3 separate regions of the Homo sapiens genome follow, and all the other regions are linked to region 1. Evidence: fine-mapped expression QTL. A gene starts in region 1. Each other region holds a variant in brackets. All regions are shown on one strand. Distances are from middle to middle. Region 1 holds the start of ENTREP1 (endosomal transmembrane epsin interactor 1). Region 2 overlaps ENTREP1 (endosomal transmembrane epsin interactor 1). Region 3 overlaps ENTREP1 (endosomal transmembrane epsin interactor 1).

What was found. PIP is the estimated chance that this variant, and not a neighbour inherited with it, causes the effect. A credible set is the group of variants that fine-mapping cannot tell apart.
Region 2: its variant is the best candidate, but not a certain one, in a credible set for the expression of ENTREP1 in stomach (GTEx, PIP 0.64).
Region 3: its variant is the best candidate, but not a certain one, in a credible set for the expression of ENTREP1 in skeletal muscle (GTEx, PIP 0.61).

The regions. Positions count from the first base shown.
Region 1 is chr9:69,323,734-69,326,411 of GRCh38, forward strand. It overlaps ENTREP1 (endosomal transmembrane epsin interactor 1), which reads left to right and starts at 1,482. Exons shown (of 11, transcript NM_001347995.2): 1 at 1,482-1,990. The coding sequence starts at 1,577.
Region 2 is chr9:69,358,238-69,360,915 of GRCh38, forward strand. The region is part of intron 2 of ENTREP1 (endosomal transmembrane epsin interactor 1); the gene reads left to right. Among named protein-coding and RNA genes, the nearest start is that of ENTREP1, 34 kb to the left of the region's middle. The variant A/G (reference allele first, on the strand shown) is at 1,288.
Region 3 is chr9:69,377,938-69,380,615 of GRCh38, forward strand. The region is part of intron 6 of ENTREP1 (endosomal transmembrane epsin interactor 1); the gene reads left to right. Among named protein-coding and RNA genes, the nearest start is that of ENTREP1, 54 kb to the left of the region's middle. The variant A/G (reference allele first, on the strand shown) is at 1,149.

The DNA.
Region 1 (2,678 bases):
CTGGAGGCTGAGGCAGGAGAATCGCTTGAACCCGGGAGGCGGAGGTTGCAGTGAGCCGAGATCACGCCATTGCACTCCAGCCTGGGCAACAGAGCGAGACACCATCTCAAACAAAACAAAACAAAACAAAAAACCCCTGCATGAATCAACAGACTTTAAACACTTATTTTGAAAGACATTTCCCTTTTCCTCCAGAATTTGAATTTATTCATGGGAGCAGTCTGTAAAGGAAGTCCTAGGCACCATTAAAGACAAGTGCTTTAATAATTTAAGAAGTGTGCATGTAAACTTGGGCACATTGACAGTATATTACATTGGGTTAAAGTGTAACGACCAATATAAATCCAGCTTCCACAAGCAGAGCATAAAAACTGACACATACTTTTCTTGGTTTATTGGGTAGGAGGATGTTAAATACCTTATGGTAAGATAAGCTTTCTAATACTGGAACTGACTAACTGCAAAGAACACTGCTCTGGTTCTTATCAGGAAAAAAAGTCCATTATAATCATTTTAGGCACGAAACTTTCTACGCATTAGAATTCTTCCGAGGTGAAAAGTATATTATTAAGGGAATTCATTTTGCAAAGAGGAATCTTTTTTTTTTTTTTTTTTTTTTTTTTGCTCTAAAGATTTTTCATAAATTACCAGAGTAGTTTAGGATTTTATTAGGATATTTCCTCGGAAGTTTGGGGGTTCCGTGTTCTATCAGGTGATGCCTAATAGATGCCTGATATAGCTCATAAGTCAATGAGAGGACAGAGCGTTACACTTGCCATGCACTCCGGGCTGCCCCGGGTACTTTCTTTACGGATGCTGGATGCTTCCAAGGTAACCCAGTCCTTTCATTCCCGCTCCTACCGAGATGCCGGGAAAGCACTCCCGCGCCGATGCGAGGTAGGCACGTCCTGCGCCCTGTGAGCGGTAACTGCGCTCGGCGTCGTCCTTCCCGAAGTCCTTGGCTTACACCTCTTCCCATCGAGTCGCCCCAAAGCCCCTCCTCCAGGCATCCCCCTCCTTGGGCAAAAGTTTAAGGGCGGGCCCCCTTCTCACTAAAGCGCGCCAGGGCCTCTCTCGTGGCTGGACAGAGAAGGCTCCTCGCTCTTCTCTAGCCCCAGCTCGGCGGGTGGGGACAGACGCTGAGACTCTCGGTGGCCGGCGCTGACGTGTCCTGGCCGTGAGGTGCCTCCCACCTCGAGGGACTTACTTAAATATTTGGGGCAGGGCACCCTCCCAGGACCCCAGGAAGCCGGCGCAGGTTCGGCGGGGACCCTGAGGCTGTGGCGCACTTGCCCCGGCACAGCGCGAGCACGGAGTGCGCGTGGGTGAGAGTGAGGGTGCGCCCAGGGCCAGCGGGAGGCGGACCCGCCAGGCGGCAGGTGGGTGCGGCCGGCTGGAGCCAGGGCAGCGGCAGCGGCGGCAGCAAGTGGTTGGGCCGTGCGCATTTCCTTCCCTCCCCCTCGGCCTCGGAGCCCGTCTGCAGTGCCCAGTGTGCTGCGCCTTCGGCTCGGCTCCGCTCCGCGTCCTCTGCCCGCCGCAGCCGGCCGCACCCGGCCGCACCCTTCCCCGTCCGTCCATGTCCCTGCCCGTGGTGCTCCCGGGCTCCTGCTGCCCCGTGGCTGGGCTTTCGGGTGGGCCGCAGGCCGGGGGCCCGGGCGCCGCTGCCGCCGCCGCTCAGGAGCCGCCGCTGCCCCCGCTGCGGCCGCGCTGGCCCCGGGGCGCGCTGCAGCCCCCGTCGCGGCCTCGCTGCGCGGCCACCGCTGCTGCCGGGGTGCTGGCCGCGCCGCCGGCGCTCTCCTCCCGCCGGGCAGTCGCCGCCGCTGCCGCCGCGGCCCCGGGCTCCGCGCTGCTGCCCGCCCGCCCGCTGCTGTCACTTGGGCTGCTTCAGCTGATCTTGGGCTGCTGCATGGTGGCGCTCAGCTTCGGGGCGCTGTCGCTGAGCAGCTCCCCGCAGGTGAAGAACTCGTGCCCGTTCTGGGCCGGCTCCTCGGTGAGTACCGCGCGCGCGCCCCGTTCGCCCGGTCATCCCGGTGATAGGGGGCTCTGGTCGTTCCTCTCCATTGCCCCTTTGTTGGCCTCCAGGGCTGCAGTTGGGGGAGCCTCACGCCACCTGAAGTTTTTGGAGGCTGGAGAAAAATGTTCCGCGACGGTCGAGTTCAGGGGTGAATTGGGTTGCACCTGGGTAGTGTCTGTTGCGCGCAGGCTGAAGAATTTTATTTTCCCTGTCAAGCTAATAGAATTAAAGACACCCAGCTCTTTGGGAGATTGGAAGGACAGGGTGTGGGTGGCAGGAAAGTGGGAGGAAAATGATTAAACTTCTTTTGGTTATTGAGTATTTGCTGCACTGACAACGTCTGTGCTGGGAGGGCAGGGATTTTGATCATTTTTGTTCACTGATGTATCAAGAATGCCTGGCACATAGTAGGTGTATTTGTGAGATGGGACAGTTTGACTGGGGCACATCGCTTGTTTTATTCTGCATTAAGACACACGTAAATGTGAAATGTGTAGGGTGGCTCGACCCCCAGACGAGTTCAGGAGGTAATGAGGGGGTGTGTGTGAACTGGCGCTTGTACCTGGTCATTAAAGGAAGGCCTTAACCCCACTGGGTTCCTGGAGCCATGCAGGCTGCTGTGCAGAATTCAGTTTGTGAGAACCGGGACCTGTCATTATGGATG
Region 2 (2,678 bases), 35 kb after region 1:
GAGTTCCCAGCAGAAGCAATGGTGGTAGCCATTTTCATGCTTGCAGTGATAGTCAAGCAGGTGTTTGCCTTTGAGGCCTGTCTGTATATGTCCTAGAATATTAGTAAGAATATATGATACCTGTATATAGCACTTATCAGAAAGAATAGATTTTCTTTCATTTGTTCATTGACTGGTTGACTGACTCATTCATTCAGTATTATTTACCACCACTTAGGTTTTTGTGTTCTTGTTTCAGATTTTCTACCCCACTGGAGAAAAGCATTTTTTAACATTTATTTGTAGCAGTATCAAAAGGCTGCATATGAGGGGGAAAAAAAGGGCACAATGATTAAATGAAGACCAGTAATATTTTCTTGGGGAATTAAAAGACAAAACAGAGTGTGAAAGAGAAGAATTCTAGGGTGGGATTAGCACCTTTTGAAGTAAAAGTTCCTGCTTTCTTAGAAGTTTCTTCTCATGAGGAAATAATTTGGTGAACTGCTCATATTTAAATAAAAACAACACATGTACGTGCACAAATTCATTGTTAACATTTAGGAAAAATATATGTTATTTCTGATAATTTAAAAAGAAGCATCACATTTGTTGAACATATTTAATTGTTAAGGAAAAATTTTTTAAAGCATTAATAAAGCCTTTTTTTTTCTTTTTCTTTTTCTTTCTTTTTTTTTTTTTTTTTTTGAGACGGAGTCTTACCCTGTCACCCAGGCTGGAGTGCAGCAGCACGATCTCGGCTGACTGTGTAACCTCCACCTCCTGGATTCAAGTGATTCTCCTGCCTCAGCCTCCTGAGTAGCTGGGATTATAGGCGTGTATCACCGTGCCTGGCTAATTTTTGCATTTTTAGTAGAGACGGGGTTTCACCATGTTGGCCAGGCTGGTCTCGATCTCCTGACCTCAAGTGACCCGCCCGCCTCAGCCTCCTAAAGTGCTGGGATTACAGACGTGAGCCACTGCACCCAGCCAAAGCCTTTCTTTCTTATTAGAATACTGCATGTGATGCCAGACAGATGTGACAGAGGCCAAACCCAGTTGGGAAGTTGATTTATACCCACATCCACCAATGAGCATACTAAGAACTTGAGGTGAGATGGTGATATGGTTAGGCTTTGTGTCCCCACCCAAATTTCATCTTGAATTGTAATTCCCATAATCCCCACGTGTCAAGGGAGGGACCAGGTGGAGATAATTGAATCATGGTGGCATTTTTCCTCATCCTGTTCTCATGATGGTGAGTGAGTTCTCATGAGATCTCATGGTTTTATAAGGGGCTGTTTCCCCTTC[A/G]CTTGGCACATCTCCTTCCTGCTACCTTGTGAGGAAGTTGCCTTGCTTCCCCTTCACCTTCTGCCGTGATTGTATGTCTCTCCAGCCATGCTGAACTGTGAGTCAATTAAACCTCTTTCTTTTATAAGTTACCTGGTCTTGGGCAGTTCTTGCTAGCAGCATGAAAATGGACTAACACAGATGGCAAAGGTCAGGGACAGGTGTGAGGACTGAGAGTGGGACAGTGAGGACAGTTACAGGCTAGATGGGGATGACAACTTCATGAAAGGAGAAGGAAAAAAGTACTAAGCTGGAGGATGGGCAGGAAGACAGAGAGATGGCCATAGTTCCTGATCTATTAAAAGTTTGTGAATTGACAAGTACATTTGTTGAGGAGAGATGTATTGAACGCATTCTACATGTTGGGCACTGCTGTGGGCAGCTTTATAGACATGCTCTTATTTTGCTTTTTTTTTTTTTTTGGTTGTTCCTTTCAACAGCCATTTGAGGTATCACTCATTTTTTATAAGTAAATAAGTGAGACCCAGTGAGTTTCAGTAATTTGCTCAAGATTATTCGGCTAGTAAGCCAATGGGCTGGAAATTAAACACACATTTATCTCACTCCGAGTTCATGTTTTTTATTCCATTTTATGCTTTAAATTTAGTTTTTCCATTTGTCAAGGTTATATGTGCACATGGTTTAAAGGGTCAAATAGTGCTGTAAGTCTGAAGAAGAAATTTTCAGTTCCTTGTCCCATTTTCAAAACACAATCACTTCAACCAATTTCCAAAGGCAATCAGTCACTTAGGCATTGTAGACAATTAGGAAATCTTTCTCTGTTACATTTCGCCCCTCTGCCCCAACACGTACTTTTATAGTCCCTTTCTCAATAAAGTTATATCATGATTTTGGTCAGAGCAATTTTCAGTGTTTATTTTATTTTGACTATCCTCTTTCCTCTCCAGTAAAATATTTTATTTTTCTTCAAGTTAACAAAGGTTAACTTGTTCAAAGGTCCTTCTTCATTTGCTTCATTTTTCTGTTATTATTGATACAAATGTCAACCATCCTCTTACTGTTTAAGTCCCTCTTCCATATATTCAAGTACATCTGTTGGATATTCTGTCACTTTCATCCTTCCTGGAGCCTTTTGACTTGCTCTATCTGGACTGGCTTCCCAGTAGGCTCTGCATGTTACTATCATCTTTATCATCCTTTCACCATTATCTTGGGCGTTCCCTTAACCTCTCTTGAGATGGATCCCTGTTTCCTGGATTCCATAGCTTCTTTTTTTCCCTCACTCCCCACAAATTTTGGTGGAGCATCCTGTAGTAGATTTCTGAGAAAAGGGTATATTAAAAACACATTTAAAAAATCTTGCATGTAAATTGCAAAAAAAAAAAGTAAAA
Region 3 (2,678 bases), 54 kb after region 1:
AGTCCACCTCTGCCAGCCTTCTTTAGAAAAATGAAAAACAATTATGCTGTTTTTCAGGGGTTTCTATTCTCTCTGTCTCTCTCTCTCTGTTTTCTGTCTTACTTTCTCTTTTTGTCTGATAAAACAGATGAATCCAAAGAAAAGTTAAACTTTGGCCTGAAGATAGACATTTTCAATTTCAATTAGCTTTCTAAGGGAAACTGACACCCAGGGAGATAACAGCTGTAATTTGACATGATTGAGAGTCGCTGTTGCCTTGGAAACACTCCCAGTTAGGCCAAATCGATGTTTCATTGTAATACCATCAGCAGGTCTCAACAATCAAGAAATTCTTCCTAGCCATTAAAAAGAGATTAATTATTAATTGTCTCTCCCTGGTCTAGAAAAAATAGATACCATACTTATTTTCCTTTTCAAATTTCAAACTTAAAATTTTGACCTTCTTAAATATCAAGGATTTTTATTGGTACAGTGAAATGCCGCATACATCTGTCTGATTGTTAGCAACTTCTAGAATCAAACCTTTTTTTAAAGAATGACTTCATTTAGGCGCGGCGTGGTGGCTCACACCTGTAATCCCAGCACTTTGGGAGGCTGAGGCGGGCAGATCATGAGGTCAGGAGATCAAGACCATCCTGGCTAACCCCCGTCTCTACTAAAAATACAAAAAAATTAGCCGGGCATGGTAGTGGGCACCTGTAGTCCCAGCTACTTGGGAGGCTGAGGCAGGAGAATGGCATGAACCTGGGAGGTGGAGCTTGCAGTGAGCTGAGATCGCACCACTGCACTCCAGCCTGGGTGAGAGCGAGACTTTGTCTCAAAAAAAAAAAAAAGAATGACTTCATTCGTTTATTCATTCAACAAACGTGGAATCCTCTGTGCTGGGTTATTGGAATTCAAAATGAGCTAGACCTGCTTCCTCCTCTACCATTAAGGAGCTCACAGTCTAGGTCATTAAAATGTGTGTTGGAAGGATCACGGTAATATTCAAAAGAGGGACTTTGGGTGCACAGAGAAGGTACACCTAACCCAGAGTGGCAAGGCAGTCAGAGATGGCTTCCTGGATGAAGTGAACTTAAGCTGAGTTTAAAGGATAAGCAAACATCTGTTGAACTTTTTGAAAGAGAATCTCTTAATTCCACAGAAAT[A/G]CTAGTGTCTTTAGCTTCATATTCAGAGGGCCAGAAATTTCTATTTTTTAATCCCTGTAGTACATGTAGAGACTTATCAAACTAACTTGGTGCTGAGCTTGAGGTTTTTAGAGAAGTATTTTCTAATGTCCAGGGTGATGGTATGTGACTTTGAGATAGGTCACCAGTGGGGCTGCCACCCAGACACTGTTAGTGTTCTTTTCAGTGGCTTAGCTGCTGACTCGTCCCTCAGTTATACCTGAACCCTACGTCTATACCCTCCCCAGCTCACTTGCCCAGGCAGGGGCAGAGATGACTGCAAAGCTGGAGGGGATGTCAGCTGGGTGACAGGTGGCCTGGGCTAGGCCTGTGGGACAGCTTGGCCTCTCTGGTGTTCAGGGAGTGGCCTCTACTGGAATTTCAAAGCCTCAGGGGCTGGGATGGCTTCCTTAATCTTTCAGGAAATGAGCCAAGAATGACAGAGGCTGAAGAGATATGGCAGCAAAACACATGTTCTTTCTGTACCTGAGGACACATTTGCAAAAATCTTAGCGCCGTCTCAGGCTGTCTGTAGAGGGTACATTGGAGGACAGTAAAAAATGACTGATATTTCATGGTGGGGATGAGAAATACCCTCTCCAATAAGAAGAATTCTTTGACACTGAGGTTGCGGATGAGCACTCTGTTGACCTAGGAGGAGGCAGCAGACAGATTTAGTTTCTGCAGTGGCAGAAAGGGAAAGTGACTCATGTGGGTTTAGGAGCCGAGCCATCCAGCAGTGTGCTCTGAGCACTCCCGACCTTCCTGTCTCCTCGCTTTCCTTTCTCTTCTCTGCTTCACCATAATAATGCTCATCACTGCAGATATTTCCACTCTTTAAGATCTAGGTGCATCCTCGGATTTGTCTCTCTGAGTCCTGAGACAGCCTCTGGCCAAATCCAGGTTGGAAGAAAACAGACAAGCTTCTCATCAAGGGCTTTATCCTTCAAAACTTTCTAGAAAGAAGGCCGAAGGAGGGAGTTAAAGCAAAACAGTCTTGTGAGAAAGAAGACATTGCCCAGTCTAAAATACGTGCCTAGAGCCCTATAATCATATTGCCAATGGGCAAACACCTTTATTTTTGGAAATTTTACCAATATCAGAGTGCAGTCCACTTTCCTTTTCAAAAGGGCTGAATTTATTCACATTTAGATACATGTCCTATCAAAAATATTTCACAATGTGACCAACTTTTCTAGATTCACGGTATAAATCAACTTTATAGACACTCATGGTTTAACCTCAGTTGGTAATTTTCTTTCTTTTAAGCAGGCAGGCAAGAATATTCATGATTGTTACTATTTTATGACCAGTTTTATCCAGAGTTTTCACACAACAGAGGCTCCCCATTTCCTGTAAGGTATTATGACCTCTCAGAAGAGGTTTGTTTAACTTCTATAAATACAACCACTTCATGCGTTGGCATCTCCTTGAGAAAAGGCTTCTCGAGTTACTGTCATAAACAGAAGTCTGATTGCAGTTGAGGTTTCTGTCCAAAGATGGGTTCGCTAC